2 linked regions of the Homo sapiens genome follow. The protein of the gene in region 1 interacts with the protein of each later gene in a pairwise test. Each region holds a gene or a part of one and is shown on either strand. Other genes may lie near its edges.

The links. Proteins that work in one complex are often made in the same cells at the same time.
Region 2: the proteins of DCAF10 (region 1) and PPIL2 interact in binary tests that used the Homo sapiens proteins (3 or more experiments, as listed by UniProt).

Annotation. Positions count from the first base shown.
Region 1 is NC_000009.12:37,852,721-37,860,292, reverse strand, and holds part of DCAF10 (DDB1- and CUL4-associated factor 10), read right to left. Parts: intron 5,514-7,572; coding exon 5,311-5,513; intron 3,053-5,310; coding exon 2,942-3,052; intron 246-2,941; coding exon 100-245; intron 1-99. UniProt on the Homo sapiens protein: May function as a substrate receptor for CUL4-DDB1 E3 ubiquitin-protein ligase complex.
Region 2 is NC_000022.11:21,675,632-21,683,203, forward strand, and holds part of PPIL2 (RING-type E3 ubiquitin-protein ligase PPIL2), read left to right. Parts: intron 1-5,667; coding exon 5,668-5,759; intron 5,760-6,805; coding exon 6,806-6,895; intron 6,896-7,550; coding exon 7,551-7,572. UniProt on the Homo sapiens protein: Has a ubiquitin-protein ligase activity acting as an E3 ubiquitin protein ligase or as an ubiquitin-ubiquitin ligase promoting elongation of ubiquitin chains on substrates.

The DNA of each region.
Region 1 (7,572 bases):
GGCAGAGACTGCAGTCAGCGATCGGCCTAAGCTCTGCACACACGGCAATGGCAATTTGTCCAATGAGCCCTGTTGAAGGTGGAGTGCTGCTGCCTGTACCTCCTCATCATCACTGTTGCTTGAGCACCGAAGAAGAGTGGCCCAGCCTTTTGGGTGCAGCTGTAAGGACGTGATGCAGTTTCCGTGGTCACTCTCACCAAGAACTTCAGGGGTTACGACTTCAAGACTATTTCGTGGTGAAACTCCTGAGATATAAGAAAATGAGGATGTGGGATTTGTATTATCAAAAAACTAAGGCAGTTCATCAAAGCTTTTTATTTCTGGCAGCCACCTCCCATGCCGTCATTCCTTAGTCTGCCCCTTATGCTACCATATGTTAAAGAGCGTGGTACTCCCCAATGTATGGTGTGTGAGTTTTGGCGGGGTGAAGGTGTGGGGAAAGGGTATAAATAGAACAAAAGATCCAAGTTCCCACAGCAGTAATTGTCACTGACCTAAGGCTAAGGCATAGAAGCTGACTAGGGGTTCTTTTATTTGGATCTTACATCTCAGAAAGCTCTTTATTTAAGTAAGAACCAAAGTTATGTGACATGAAAGGACTCTAGAAAGGTAAAAGGTAACAATTCTCCTCTCATTGGTCCTGGTGCTTTCTGGTCCAGAGAAGGAAATACTTGGAAGCCATGAGGATTGCCTTTTAAGCAAATAAAAAGATCAGGACTTAAGCACCTGCAATAACAACACTATAAACAAAAAATAAAATGTTGGAGGTAAGAAAGGACACCTCACATAAAGGCATGTCAAAACAAGGGATGGGAGACATTGCCAATCATAGACTCTACTATGCCTCATCATTTCCTTCTACCTAACTCCCAATGAAAATGACTGCTGGAGTAAGGCACTGTTAATAATAGGAATATGTTATATCCTTCAGGTGCGTGAAAAACCACTTTCATAGACACTGTAAGGAAGCAACTTAGAAATTTAATAGCAAGAGAAATATTTCAACACTTCTCTGACTGTGGAAGGAGTTATTTTGAAGGTATTGAGCTCCCTCTGTCAGATCCTTTGTGAATTGCTTGTCAAGCAGATGTGTTACCTTCTTTCTAAAGATTCCCTTCAGATTACTACATCATTAACAGAAACCTGTGAAGCTCTAAATTACACTGCTATAACAAAACTATACTGAAATAACTATTTCACATATGATTGAACTTTAACAATTTTAGAGAAAAATATACTCTTATTTTAAGAATTAATTTGGAAAACCTATAACAAAACCAGACAAGAAATGCATTCTAAGTAGGTGGTTTGCTAACTGTGCTCCTTTGGGGTTCCTCAGGAGATGGCAAAAGTGGGGAACCACGTGTGGGCTGAGGTGTAGATGGAGTGGGGAAGGCTGGAGGGTCAAGAGCCTCCCTAATTTTTCTTGAACCAGAGCTACTTTGATTTTATTTGTGCTACATCTCTAAGAATCCACAGCAGATTTCATGTCAAAAATAGAGTTCTAATGCTGAAATGCATTTGAAAGCCTCTGCTCTATACAGCTATTATATCTGCCAAAGGATAGTGTTAACATACTCTGACATCTGAAGATCCAGGATTTCCAACATTTAGAGCAACTTCACCTATAAGCCCCACCTTCTCCCATGTTTTCCCTCTCTTTTCACCCTCTCATTTTCCTCTTCTTCCCAGCCTCCTCATATATCATCTCTTCCCTCATTCTTAACTCTCTGTGGCATAGAACTGCTGTATATTTGTGTTTGTGTGTTTACCACTGGTCAATAACAAGCAAGCATGTTAACTATTCTTCTTAAATTAAGTTTCTTTTTCTTGTGGATGGTGTAGTCAATCAATAAAGATTTTTCTCAATGATTATTAGAAGCCTTGACTTGTTTCCCATAGCACAAGTGGAAGGAGAACAGGAAGAATCTGCAAAAGATGTTTGTGTTACAAATCAAAGGAAAAATGTTATACTTCTGGGCATAAATCTTTAAATTTAAGAGGAGGAGCCTTTAACCTTAAAGTGAAATATCACAGACTTCAATATCCAGAGGCAAGTGGATAGGCCATATAGGTTAGAAAGAGCTCTTAAACCATTCTACTGACATAAGTAGCCATGCAAGATAACCAGCATCTACTAGGCAAAGCCACCCAGTGAAAACACAAATTAGAAGTCTAAGATTTAGTCTCTGCCCAAAATAACAAGGTAGAGAAATGTCTATCTCCAAAAGTGACCCAAAATGACAAAAAAAAAAGCAAGCCATCTCTGGCTCTTAATACTCAGTTCACAAAGAGAAGAATAAACAATGAATGGTATAAGAGCTTAGACGTCAGTTAGTATGAAGAGGAACAGTATGTGGAATTTGTATAGGCAGAAACCATTTCAACTGGGGGGGTGTGGTGGAAGGTATAGGGCAGAGCAACTAGTTCTGCCAGAATGGCTAGGAAAAAACTGGGAAATACAGAGAGGAGCCAGATGGTAGCTCACTTTATCCTACAAACCCTTGGAAGCTGTCAGGCATTGCACAGACAAGGAAATGGCAGAGCAAAAAGTCTGAGGGTAACCAGGTGACTTTCACAATTACCTGAAAATTCATGACTTATATTTATACAGAGCTTTCACGTGCATAATCTCACTTAATTTTCACAACAATCTTGATTGAAATCTATATTTCTGAACTACTTCCTCTCCAAACTAGACCAAACTAAGTCCAGCTAATAAAACCAAAGCTCAAGTTCTATTAAGATTTAACTCAAGATATTCAACCCCAGGGACTCTCGGTTAGCTTTTTGAAGATGATGACTGAGGGATAAATCACCTCATCTCCATTGCTTTTATTTTTATGGATTAAAACCATAAAACTGGTTTTAATCAATCAATAATTAATCAGATTGGCATAATCTGTTGTTACAAGATTATAAAATCCAACTTTTAACCTACCTTCTCTTTGAGAGGCTCGTGACATGTGTTTCTCAGAAGAATTAGAATCACTATGATGACAAGGTGAGCCAGAAACTCTAGGACCAGATGAACTTGATGAAGTGGTCAAATCTTAAAAATATAAAAAATTCTGACAATAAACCTAGCATAACTCTGGTAGTGGCTCTTAACTTTTTAATTATCTACTCGAACCATAGTTTTAAAATTTTGAAAAAATGCTCATATATCACTGGCCTATAAGACTGAGGAAGGCAAGACAGCTCTTTGAAGTGTTCTAAGATCTAGTCCCTTTCTGAATCTTTTATATCAAAGACTTGACTATGTGAAATAAAAATGAAAAACCAAATAATCATAGGAGCGTCTTTGGATCCTCATGATTTCTGTACTAAAATGGAACCCAAAAATTCCATGAAAATGAAAACTAAGCTCTTAAGCCTATTGTTTTATGTTAAAATAGGGTCCAAACAACAGGCCCATTACCAGAAACATGAAGAGATTCTTCTTTAAAGTATACCAAAAACTTCCATTATCATTCTTGAAATTACGTGAATAGTCTTTTTTTTTGAGACAAGGATCTTGCTATGTTGCCCAGGCTGGACTCCTAATTCCTGGGTTCAAGTGATCCTCCTGCCTCAGCCTCAGCCTCCTGAGTAGCTGGGCCTAAAGGCATGCACCACTGTGCCAAGTTTATGTGAATACTGTGAAATGTGACATAAAGTTTACATTGAAAAAAATAAAATGAGTATCAGGTAGTGGAGTCTGATATATTACTCCAAATAGCAGTGTCTATTTCATCATCACATTTTGCTAGTGGTCCCATACCTATGTTAAGAATTCTTACTAGTCTAATTTCCTGTAATGTTATTTAGTATCAGAATTACCATTAGAAAACTGAAAACCTTGTTGGTTTTTGAGTTGAAATAGGCCAACTAGACATTCAAAATCACTATTTCTCACTAAGTTAGAGTTGCTTATCATGTTTAACTTAAAAGGCAAATTTGAATCTCAAAGGATTATACTCGTATATTTATGAAATCCCTTGTTTGCAAGTAAGTTGGTAAAACTTAAATTTCTACTTTTGACAGTTATGCCAGGCACTGCAGTACAATGATGTCTGTACTTTCCCAAAGGAATTTTCAGAAGTGGTCCTGTGCACAAGGAGAAAGATTCCAACCTTTTTTTTCATTTCCTTTTTTTTGGACACAGGGTCTTTCTCTGTTGCCCAGGGTGGAGGGCAGTGGGGCACAATCATGGCTCACTGCTGCCTCAACCTGCCAGGCTCAGGTGATCCTCCTGCCCCAGCTTCCTGAGTAGATGGGACTACAGATGCATGCTAGCATATCTGGCTAATTTTTGTGTTTTTCGTAGAGACAGGGTTTCACCATGTTGCCCAGGCTGGTCACAAACTCCTGGGCTCAAGCGATCTGCTCACCTCAGTCTCTCAAAGTGCTAGGATTACAAACGTGAGCCACTGCACCTGGCTAAATTTTTAAGTTATTTGTAGAGATGAGGTCTTCCTATGTTGCCCAGGCTACCCTTGAGTTCAACTCCTGGGCTCAAGCGATCCTCCCACCTTGGCCTCCCAAAGTGATGGGATTACAGGTGTGAGCCCCCGCACCTGGCCCCAACCATTCAAAGCTGCCTTTTAATAGCAATTTATTAGCATTCTATGTTCCAAATGCTTAAGTCTTTTTTCCCCTGGATTTTTGTTTATAATGTAAATGATGGGTATGTCCCCACACCAGTCCCCTCTTTCCCAAAGGTAGATGAAATATAGTCTTTTTTAAATCACATAATGTTGATAAAATACAATACGTACATTTTTCTGAACCCTAAATTCTCTTAAGTCTAACAAAATCAGCAATGGGAGAAGAGACAGAGTTTTAGCAAAAGAGCGTTTAGAGAGTAATGAGATAAGATGGCACCAGCTACCTGTGTCTGGACATCTGTAAGTCTAGGATACAGATAAAACTAAAACTCTATATTGACCATAATTTAATAAAAGCTCTGCTTGATTCCAGAAGGACTTAAGACCTTGTGCCATCACTAATTTTTGAGATAGTGATGATTCAAAATTACTGATGAAAAGATCCTGTGGCTAGCATAAAGCTAAAAGAAAATACTTTAGGGTCAGCAGTTATTCCTCCTAGTCCATTTGTGATTCAGAGGTACATATGAATGATATGTCAGAGATACATACAAATCATTATACTTGCTTAGATAAAAACCCATCAATGAGCTTTCTAAAGAATGCCTTTTAAAAAACTGTCTTCCCTTTTCCTGCTATCATTTTCAGAAAAGAAACCTATACCATCTCTATGTTTGAGATTCTCGAGAAAAATCTTTTTGACCAAAAAAGAAAAGCTTACCTGAACTTGAAGTAGTTCTTCTTGCTCTTAAAATGGGATAGCTGCCTACTTCTAAAGACTTAGTTAAGTCAAGGTCATGCAAAATTAAGAGATATCCAGAGGACGTTGAAATCAACATTTTGGAACAATCTGGTGTTAACCTCATTCGCATGAGAAAACGTGTGTGAAAGAATTTCTTATGTGGACACCCATCTTCTGTATACCTACAGGAGAAACCAAGCCAACAAAATCTAGAGTTATCATAAATATAACGGTTCAGTAATAATCATATTTTTTGCCCTTCAAAATAAAATGTAGGGAGGATGAGAAGAGCTTGGTCAATGGGCTCAAAATTACAATTAGGAGGAATAAGTTCTAGGGTATTAATATTGCACAGTAGGGTGATGACGGTTAATAGTAAGATACAGTATATTATAAAATAGCTAGAAGAGCGACTGTTACATGTCCTTACCACAAAGGAATGATAAGTGCATGCTAATACTGATTTGCTCATTATACAACATATATGTGTCAAGACATCAAATTGTACCCTGTAAATATGTGCAGTTACAATGTGTCAATTAAAAAATATTTGAGGCCAGGCATGGTGGCTCATGCCTGTAACCCCAGCACTTTGAGAGACCAAGGCAGGAGGATTGCTTGAGCCTAGGAGTTCAAGACCATCCTGGGCAAGATGGTGACCCCATCTCTACAAAAATTTAAAAAATTAAAATAAATTAGCTGAGTGTGGTGGTGTGCACTCATAGTTCCAACTACTCAGGAGGCTGAGGTGGGAGGATCACGCGAGCCTGGGAGTTTGAGGCTGCAGTGAGCTATGATCACACGACTGCACTCCAGCCTGGGTGACAGACAGACAGACCCTGTCTCTATTCAAAAAAAAAAAAATTGAAACTTCAAAAATGAGATGTCTTTCCAATAAATTTTACTTTTTATGTTAATAATTATTATTTAAAATAATACATGTTGTTTTAATCAATTGTGGACTAATAATATTGTAATGATCATTAAATCCAGAAGAAATGTAACACTAATAGCCCTGTGGTCACAGAAAACAATTTTTAAAATTAATGTCAGTTTACGTGCATATTTTTGATGCCAATAAGAATGATCAGTAGGCTAGGGGTGGTGGCTCACACCTGTAATCCCAACACTTTGGGAGGCTGAGGCGTGAGGACAGATGGAGCCCAGGATTTCAAGACCAACCAGGGCAACATAGCAAGACCCTGTCTCTACAAAAAATAAAAAGTTAGCTGGAGACTGAGGTGCGAGGATGGTTTGAGCCTGGGATGTGGACGGTGCAGTGAGCCATGATTGCGCCACTGCACACCAGCCTGAGCATATAACAGGATATAATTCTATGAGAAAATATAATGAAAATGAGTACCAGAAGAAAAAGTTGTAAAACTTCCAGCTGTTAAAAAAAATAGAATTTACAGTCAATGTATATTGAGATTTACATACATGCTTAACAATCTTTTTGCTCATCATTCCTTCGTTCATCTCCAAAATTCCTTTTTTGATCCTTTCTTTCTGAAGTATATCCCTCAGAATTTTTTTTTTTTTTTTTTTGAGATGGAGTTTTGCTCTTGTCGCCCAGGCTGGAGTGCAATGGTACTGTCTCAGCTCGCTGCAACCTCTGCCTCTCGGGTTCAAGCGATTCTCCTGCCTCAGCCTCCCAAGTAGCTGGGATTACAGGCACGCACCACCACACCCATGCCTGGGATTACAGGCATGAACCACCATGCCCGGCCAGAATTTTTTAAAGTTAGACTTTGTTGAGGTAAATGCTCTCGCTTTTTATTGTTCTGAAAATCTTTTTTTTTTTTTTTTGAGACGGAGTTTCACTCTTGTTGCCCAGGCTAGAGTGCAATGGCGCGATCTTGGCTTACTGTGAACTCCGCCTCCTGGGTTTAAGCGATTCTCCTGCCTCAGCCTTTAAAAAAAATAAAATTTTTTAATGGTGTACATGATGTTTCAAATATGTATATATTGTGGAATAGCTAAATCAAGCTAATTTATATATATATATATATATATATATATATATATATAACCTCACATACTTAACATTTATGATGATAACACTTAAAATCTACTTTTAACAAATTTCAATTATATATAATAACAACAGTAAATTGTCATTAACAGTGGTCATCATGTTGTACAATATACATCTCCCAAGTAGCTGGGATTACAGGCACCTGCCACCACATCCAGCTAATTTTTCACATTTTTAGTAGAGACGGGGTTTCACCATGTTGG
Region 2 (7,572 bases), on another chromosome or scaffold:
CAAAGGCGATCAGGCCATTGTAAGCTGCTAGTGGCCTTTGTGGGCACAGTTGGATCTGCAGGGCATGGGCCCCCTCTGGCTGAGGCTGTGGTCTGTTTGTTGTTGGAGGCAGAAGTTGCTCATGCTGGGAACCAAGGCGGCAGCTGAGTAGGGGATGTGGGTGGTCTGGAGGGATTTGTCCAGTAGCTCTTGGGCTAGGCTTTTCTTTGCCACAGCTCATAGAGCCCAGCCCAGTGCTGCGGCTCCTGCTTCATGCCCATTACACACCTTCCGCTGTTCTTGTGGCCAGAGGCCCGGATGAGTTGTGCAGCCCACCCCTGCCCAGGTGGTGATCTTGTGCTAGGTTCTAGTCCAGGTCTTTTGCCTGTGGAGATGCTATGGCTTAGGGGTTGTCCTTGCTTACTGGGTGCATGCATTCCAGGGAGATGCTGTAGCACCTGAGGCCAAGGCCCTTTTGCCCCGCTTGTCTGAGCCCAGAGCCCGGTCCCCAGTCGGTGCAGCATTCGCAGGTGAATGAATGGGTGAACCTCAGCACGTCATTGACGTCGGTGGAGGACACGGCGCTCCACCCTGGTGGCCGAGGGTGGGCTGCCTCCCCTCCTGTGATCAGCAGTGTGTGTGTGTGTGTGTGTGTGTGTGTGTGTGTGTCTCATTCAGCAAATATTTATTTATTTATTTTGTGTGTGTGTGTGTGTGTGTGTGTGTGTGTTATTGTTTATTTTTTATTTCTCCAAACCTCTTTTTTTTTTTATTGATCATTCTTGGGTGTTTCTCACAGAGGGGGATTTGGCAGGGTCATAGGACAATAGTGGAGGGAAGATCAGCAGATAAACAAGTGAACAGAGGTCTCTGGTTTTCCTAGGCAGAGGACCCTGCGGCCTTCTGCAGTGTTTGTGTCCCTGGGTACTTGAGATTAGGGAGTGGTGATGACTCTTAACTAGCATGCTGCCTTCAAGCATCTGTTTAACAAAGCACATCTTGCACCGCCCTTAATCCATTTAACCCTGAGTGAACACCGCACATGTTTCAGAGAGCACAGGGTTGGGGGTAAGGTCATAGATCAACAGCATCCCAAGGCAGAATTTTTCTTAGTACAGAACAAAATGGAGTCTCCTATGTCTACTTGTTTCTACACAGACACAGCAACAATCTGATTTCTGTATCTTTTCCCCACATTTCCCCCTTTTCTATTCGACAAAACCACCATCGTCATCATGGCCTGTTCTCAATGAGCTGTTGGGTACACCTCCCAGATGGGGTGGCAGCCGGGCAGAGGGGCTCCTCACTTCCCAGAAGGGGCGGCCGGGCAGAGGCGCCCCTACCTCCCGGACGGGGCGGCGGCCAGGCGGGGGCTGCCCCCCACCTCCCTCTTGGACGGGGCGGCTGGCCGGGCGGGGGCTGCCCCCCACCTCCCTCCCGGACGGGGCGGCTGCCGGGCGGAGACGCTCCTCACTTCCTAGACAGGGCGGCTGCCGGGCAGAGGGGCTCCTCGCTTCTCAGACGGGGCGGCTGCCGGGCGGAGGGGCTCCTCACTTCTCAGACGGGGCGGCCAGGCAGAGACACTCCTCACCTCCCAGATGGGGTTGCAGCCAGGCAGAGGCGCTCCTCACATCCCAGACGATGGGTGGCTGGGCAGAGACGCTCCTCACATCCCAGACAGGGTGGCGGCCGGGCAGAGGCTGCAATCTCGGCACTTTGGGAGGCCAAGGCAGGCGGCTGGGAGGTGGAGGTTGTAGCTAGCCGAGATCACGCCACTGCACTCCAGCCTGGGCAACATTGAGCACTGAGTGAACGAGACTCCGTCTGCAATCCCGGCACCTCGGGAGGCCGAGGCTGGCAGGTCACTCGCGGTTAGGAGCTGGAGACCAGCCTGGCCAACACAGCGAAACCCCGTCTCCACCCAAAAAATACGAAAACCAGTCAGGCGTGGCGGCGCGCGCCTGCAATCCCAGGCACTCGGCAGGCTGAGGCAGGAGAATCACGCAGGGAGGTTGCAGTGAGCCGAGATGGCAGCAGTACAGTCCAGCTTTGGCTCGGCATCAGAGGGAGACCCTGGGGAGCGGGAGCGGGAGAGGGAGAGGGAGGGACAGCAAATATTTATTGAGTGCCTGCCATGTGCAGAGAGCACAACAGGCTGTGTCTCTCCTGAATGAGAGGAGCATGCATTCTGGTGGGGGAGAACACCAGAGAGCAGCTCAGCAGGGTGTGCCAGAGGCTGCTTGTGTGTGTAGAGCACAGCAGGGGGAGGGGAGAGGGCCGCCCTGACCCGCTGCAGGGAGGGAGAGCCGTGTGGGCATCGGGGGAGTGCAGGGCCAGGCTGATGGCACAGCCAGTGCAAAGACCCTGAGGTGGGCGCACGCTCAAGGGTGTCTGTGCCCAGCTGGGAGTCCAATGTGGCTGGAACAGCGTGTGCTAGCGGTGGAAGCAGGGGATGTGGTGACAGAGGTCAGGGGTGGGGATGGTGTGCAGAGCAGTCCTGTGGGGCCTGGGAGCCACAGGAGGACTTGGGCTTCCGCTCCAAGATGAGAGCCACTGAGGGAGGAATGAGGTCCAGCCTTTTTTTTTCTTTTAAAACTTTGACCTGGCAGTCAGCTTCTTTTGTTGTGTTTCCTTTTTTCTTTTGAAATGAGGTCTCTGTCACCCAGGCTGGAATGCAGTGGCACAGTCTCAGCTCACTGCAACCTCTGCCTCCTGGGCTCAAGAGATCCTCCCACCTCAGCCTCCCAAGTAGCTGGGACTACAGGCACCACCACTGCACCCAGCTAGTTTTTGTGTTTTTTGTAGAGACGGGGTTTCACCATGTTGGCCAGGCTGGTCTCGAACTCCTGGGCTCAAGTGATCCACCTGCCTCAGCCTCCCAAAGTGCTGGGATTACAGGCGTGAGCCACTGCGCCCCACCTGTTTCTTTGTTAATTGGAATTCCCCGTGCGTGAAAGTGGAGTGAGGAGGTGTGATACGCCTCCCCTGTGCCCATCATCAACTCCAGCCCCTGCTGTCTCCCATCTGTGCAGTTCTGTCTTTGCTCCCACCAGTACCCCCTTGCATGATGCTGAAGCCCCAATTTAAAAAACAGTTTTCACATCAGAAGGATTTTTGTTTGTTTGTTTGTTTTTGAGACATGGTCTTGCCCTGTTGCCCAGGCTGGAGTGTAGTGGCATGATCAGAGCGCACTGTTGCTTCGACCTTCCAGGACCAAGTGCTCCTTCCACCTCAGTCTCCCAAGTAGATGGGACCACAGGCATGTACTACCATGCCCAGCCAATTTTTTTTTTTTTTTTTTTTGAGATGGAGTTTCGCTCTTGTTCCCCAGGCTGGAGTGCAATGGCGTGATCTCGGCTCACTGCAACCTCCGCCTCTTGGGTTCAAGCGATTCTCCTGGCTCAGCCTCCCGAGTGGCTGGGATTACAGGCATGTGCCACCACACCTGGCTAATTTTGTATTTTTAGTAGAGACGGGGTTTCTCCATGTTGGTCAGGCTGGTCTCAAACTCCCGACCTCAGGTGATCCTCCCGCCTCTGCCTCCGAAAGTGCTGGGATTACAGGTGTGAGCCACCGCGCCCAGCCCCAGCTACTTTTTTAATTTTTATTTTTGTAGAGATGAGGTTTCCCTATGTCACCCAGGCTGGTCTTGAAGTCCTGGGCTCAAGTGATCCTCCCGCGTCAGCATCCCCCCACCAAAAAAAAACAGCTGGGCACCATGGTTTACGCCTGCAATCTCAGCACTTTGGGAGGCCAAGGTGGGAGGATTGCTTGAGCCCAGGAGTTCAAGACCAGCCTGGGCAACATAATGAAACCTTGTCTCTACAAAATGAAACCTAAAAATTAGCCAGTGTGGTTGAGCACACCTGTAGTCCCAGCTACTTGGGAGGCTGAGGTGGGAGGATTATTGGAGCTTGGGAAGTTGAGACTGCGTGAGCTGTGATTGCGCCACTGCATTCCAGCCTGGGTGATAGAGCTAGACCCTGTCTCAAAAAACAAAACAAAACAAAAAAACGGGGTCTCAGCCTATCGCCTAGGCTGGTCTCAAACTCCTGACCTCAAGCAATCCTCCCACCTTGGCCTCCCAAAGCACTGGGACTAGAGGTGTGAGCCACCTCTAACTTGAGGCTCTAACTAATTTGAGGCTCTAACTTGGCCTCAAATCAGGATTTTTTTTAAGAAAAAGTCCCCACAAGGCCAGGTGCGGTGGCTCACGCCTGTAATCCCAGCACTTTGGGAGGCCAAGGTGGGCAGATCACGAGATCAGGAGATCGAGACCATCCTGGCTAACACGGTGAAACCCCGTCTCTACTAAAAAAATACAAAAAATTAGCCGGGCATGGTGGCGGGCGCCTGTAGGTCCCAGCTACTCAGGAGGCTGAGGCAGGAGAATGGCGTGAACCCGGGAGGCGGAGCTTGCAGTGAGCCGAGGAGATCATGCCACTGCACTGCAGCCTGGGCAACGGCAAGACTCTGTCTCAAAAAAAAAAAAAAAGAAAAAGTCCCCACAAATACATGTGGTTGATGTTTCTGAGTCCCCCTACTGCACTTACTTTTTTATCCCCAGAAGTGGGCACTTTGACAGGGCCCCTGGCCACTGGGTGGGGACTTACAGGCAGAGAGACAGTAACCAAGGCCAGGTGCAGTGGCTCATGCCTGTAATGCCAGCACTTTGAGAGGCTGAGGCAGGCAGATGACTTGAGGTCAGGAGTTCGGGACCAGTCTGGCCAAGGTGGTGAAACACTGTCTCTACTAAAAATACAAAAATTAGTCGTACATGGTGACGCATGCATGCCTGTAGTCTCAGCTACTCCGGAGGCGGAGGCAGCAGAATCGCTGGAACCCAGGAGATGGAGGTTGCAGTGAGCCGAGATCACGCTACTGCACCTCAGCCTGGGTGACAGAGCAAGACTCCATCTCAAAACAGAGTAAAACAAGGCCGGGTGCAGTGGCTCACACCTGTAATCCCAGCACTTTGGGAGGCCGAGGTGGGCAGATCATTAGGTCAGGAGATCGAGACCATCCTGGCTAACATGGTGAAACCCCATCTCTACTAAAAATACAGAAAAATTAGCCGGGCATGATGGCAGGCACCTGTAGTCCCAGCTACTCGGGAGGCTGAGGCAGGAGAATGGCGTGAACCTGGGAGGCGGAGCTTGCAGTGAGCCGAGATTGTGCCACTGCACTCCAGCCTGGGTGACAGAGCGAGACTCCATCTCAAAAAAAAAAAAAAAAAAAAAAAACAGAGCAAAACAAAAAAAAGACAGTAGGCAGGCAAGGGGATGGGCGGTTCTGAAGGAAGAGCTGACCAGGGGGCTGGCGGAGGATGTGGGTGAGAGGAGGTAGAGCTGTCAGGGCTGGAACATGGGTTGTTTCCTGCCGAGGGCCAACTTCAGTAGGAGGAGGAGGCTAGCATGGTGATCACCCAGGGGTGGGCTGGAGGATCTGAGGAAGACGATGCCGGGATTGGGTCTTGCAGGATGAATAGGAGTTTCCTAACGGTGTGGAAGGGCTTGAGGGGGTGAGCAGCTGTCCCCATGGTTCCCTGCTCTGGCAGCTGACATGGGGTTCCACCTCCTCCCATCGCTGACTTTGGAGTTCTGTCCTGCCCTGGCCCTCTGCGGTCCTCACTGGGATGTTCACAGCCCACAGAGGTGACTGGCCTCCCTGTGTGTGCCTTCTCTCTAGGGAAGTACCACTGCCCAGTGCTGTTTACCGTGTTCACCAACAACACCCACATCGTGGCTGTGAGGACGACCGGCAACGTCTACGCCTATGAGGTGTGTCCTCGCTCCGGGGCGTGGAGACAGCGGTGGGGAGATCTCTGCTGTGTGTTCCTAGTATACACTGGCTGGGCTGTGTGCTACGTGTACGGCCTGTCCTCGTGGGGTTTACAGTCACAGCCACAGGCATGGTCATCTAGCAAAGCTCTGGCAGTGCAGCCTCCCCATTTTCAGGCAGGTCAAAAAAAGGGTTGGGGGAGGTGCATCCTTCGGAATCCAGGCAGTCCTGGCTGCCCAGCAGGGACCCTTAAACCCCAAGAGGTCCTTCCGCGTCTTCAGCAAAGCCCAGGTGCTGGGAAGGCACCCATGTTTTGAGGACAGGCCTCTAGGGCTGTGAGGGGAGTGCTCGCCCCGGATCTGGATGGAGTCACTTGCCCCCAGGAGGGAGCTGTCCCCTGGAGGAGTTCTGGCAGGGAGTGGGTGTAGGGAGAGGGGAGACAGCCGTGTTCACACATGGGTCCTCCTCTTGGGTGAGGCGGGGCAGGCCCCACATGGCGGGAAAGCCGACCTTTGCGCCGTTGTCAATCCTGCACCTGGACGTTTGTGGGGTGTAGGTGGCCAGCGCTGCTCCAGGGGCCTTGGGAGCCACTTCTTGCCAGAAGCCTGCACAAACTGGCATGGTCAGTCCTCGTTAGTGGAGTGAGGGCTCTGCTAGACCGCACCGCAGGAGTGCAGGCATCTTGTGTGCACAGCCCCTGCCCACGGGGGCCTGGCACCATACCTGTGCATGGGAGGAGCTTGGCAAAGCCTGCAGCGAGTGGGTGGGTGACTCGCTGAGTCTTTTTGCTGATCAATGTGCAGACAAGAGCTTCCTGCAGGAAGGTTGCTGCGAGGGTGAACTGGCTCATCGTCTGAGGCCCAGCCAGCTCCGCCTCTGTGGGAGCCACTGCTTTCAGCCAGTGGGGTGTACACTGCTGTCTCTCTCATTCCTCATGCCTCTCAAATCGTGCCATGGTCGGGGCCAGCTCCAGGCCTCCCTGCTTGCAGTCCCCTGTGCCAAGGCTTGGGGCAGGCATCGTAAAACCACTTCCTCCTGGCTATAGGCAGTGGAACAGCTAAATATCAAGGCCAAGAACTTCCGGGACCTGCTGACCGACGAGCCCTTCTCCCGGCAGGACATCATCACCCTCCAGGTGAGTGTCCCCTGCCTGCCTGCCCCAGCTGCCTTCAGCACCTGCAGCCAGCCCAGGCCTCTACAGGGCCCTACCCCCACGTCAGGGCCCCTCATATCTGTCCTCAAAGCCACCTGAGGCATCTGAATAGCCACTCTGCAGGCCTGGCTCTGCTTCAGCGCCTCGAGGGCAGGAGCTGGCATGAGCTCTGCAAAGACCCTGTATCTGGCACAGGGTCCCTGCAGGTGTCAGAGAACCCCAAGTGAATTAATGAAAAACACTGACTTAGAAAAGCAGGTGCTGGCTGGAGCGTGGCCTGCTGAGTCAATCACCTCTGTGGCTTGTCCCATTCTAACCAGAGGTCGGCCCACGGCTGCCCACGTTCCGGTCCGATAGCTCCCTAACAGCAATGAATGCTCGTTAGCCATGTGCCTGGAGGAAGGTCACAGCTCAGCCAGCAGCTAGCGAGGCTGCGTCCCCGTCCCTGCCCCTGCCCCTGTTTGCTGCCCTGCCTGGGGCAGACCACCTCCTCCCTCATGCCCTGCTTGACTCCCCCAACCTCAGTGTAGCCCTGGCCTCTTCCACACCTCTGACAGCTGGCCGTCCTTTGCTGCATGTGGCTGCCATTTGGCCGTAGGCTGGGTTCACTCTGCTGGGCATTCTCTTTTTGCCACAGGACCCCACCAATTTGGACAAGT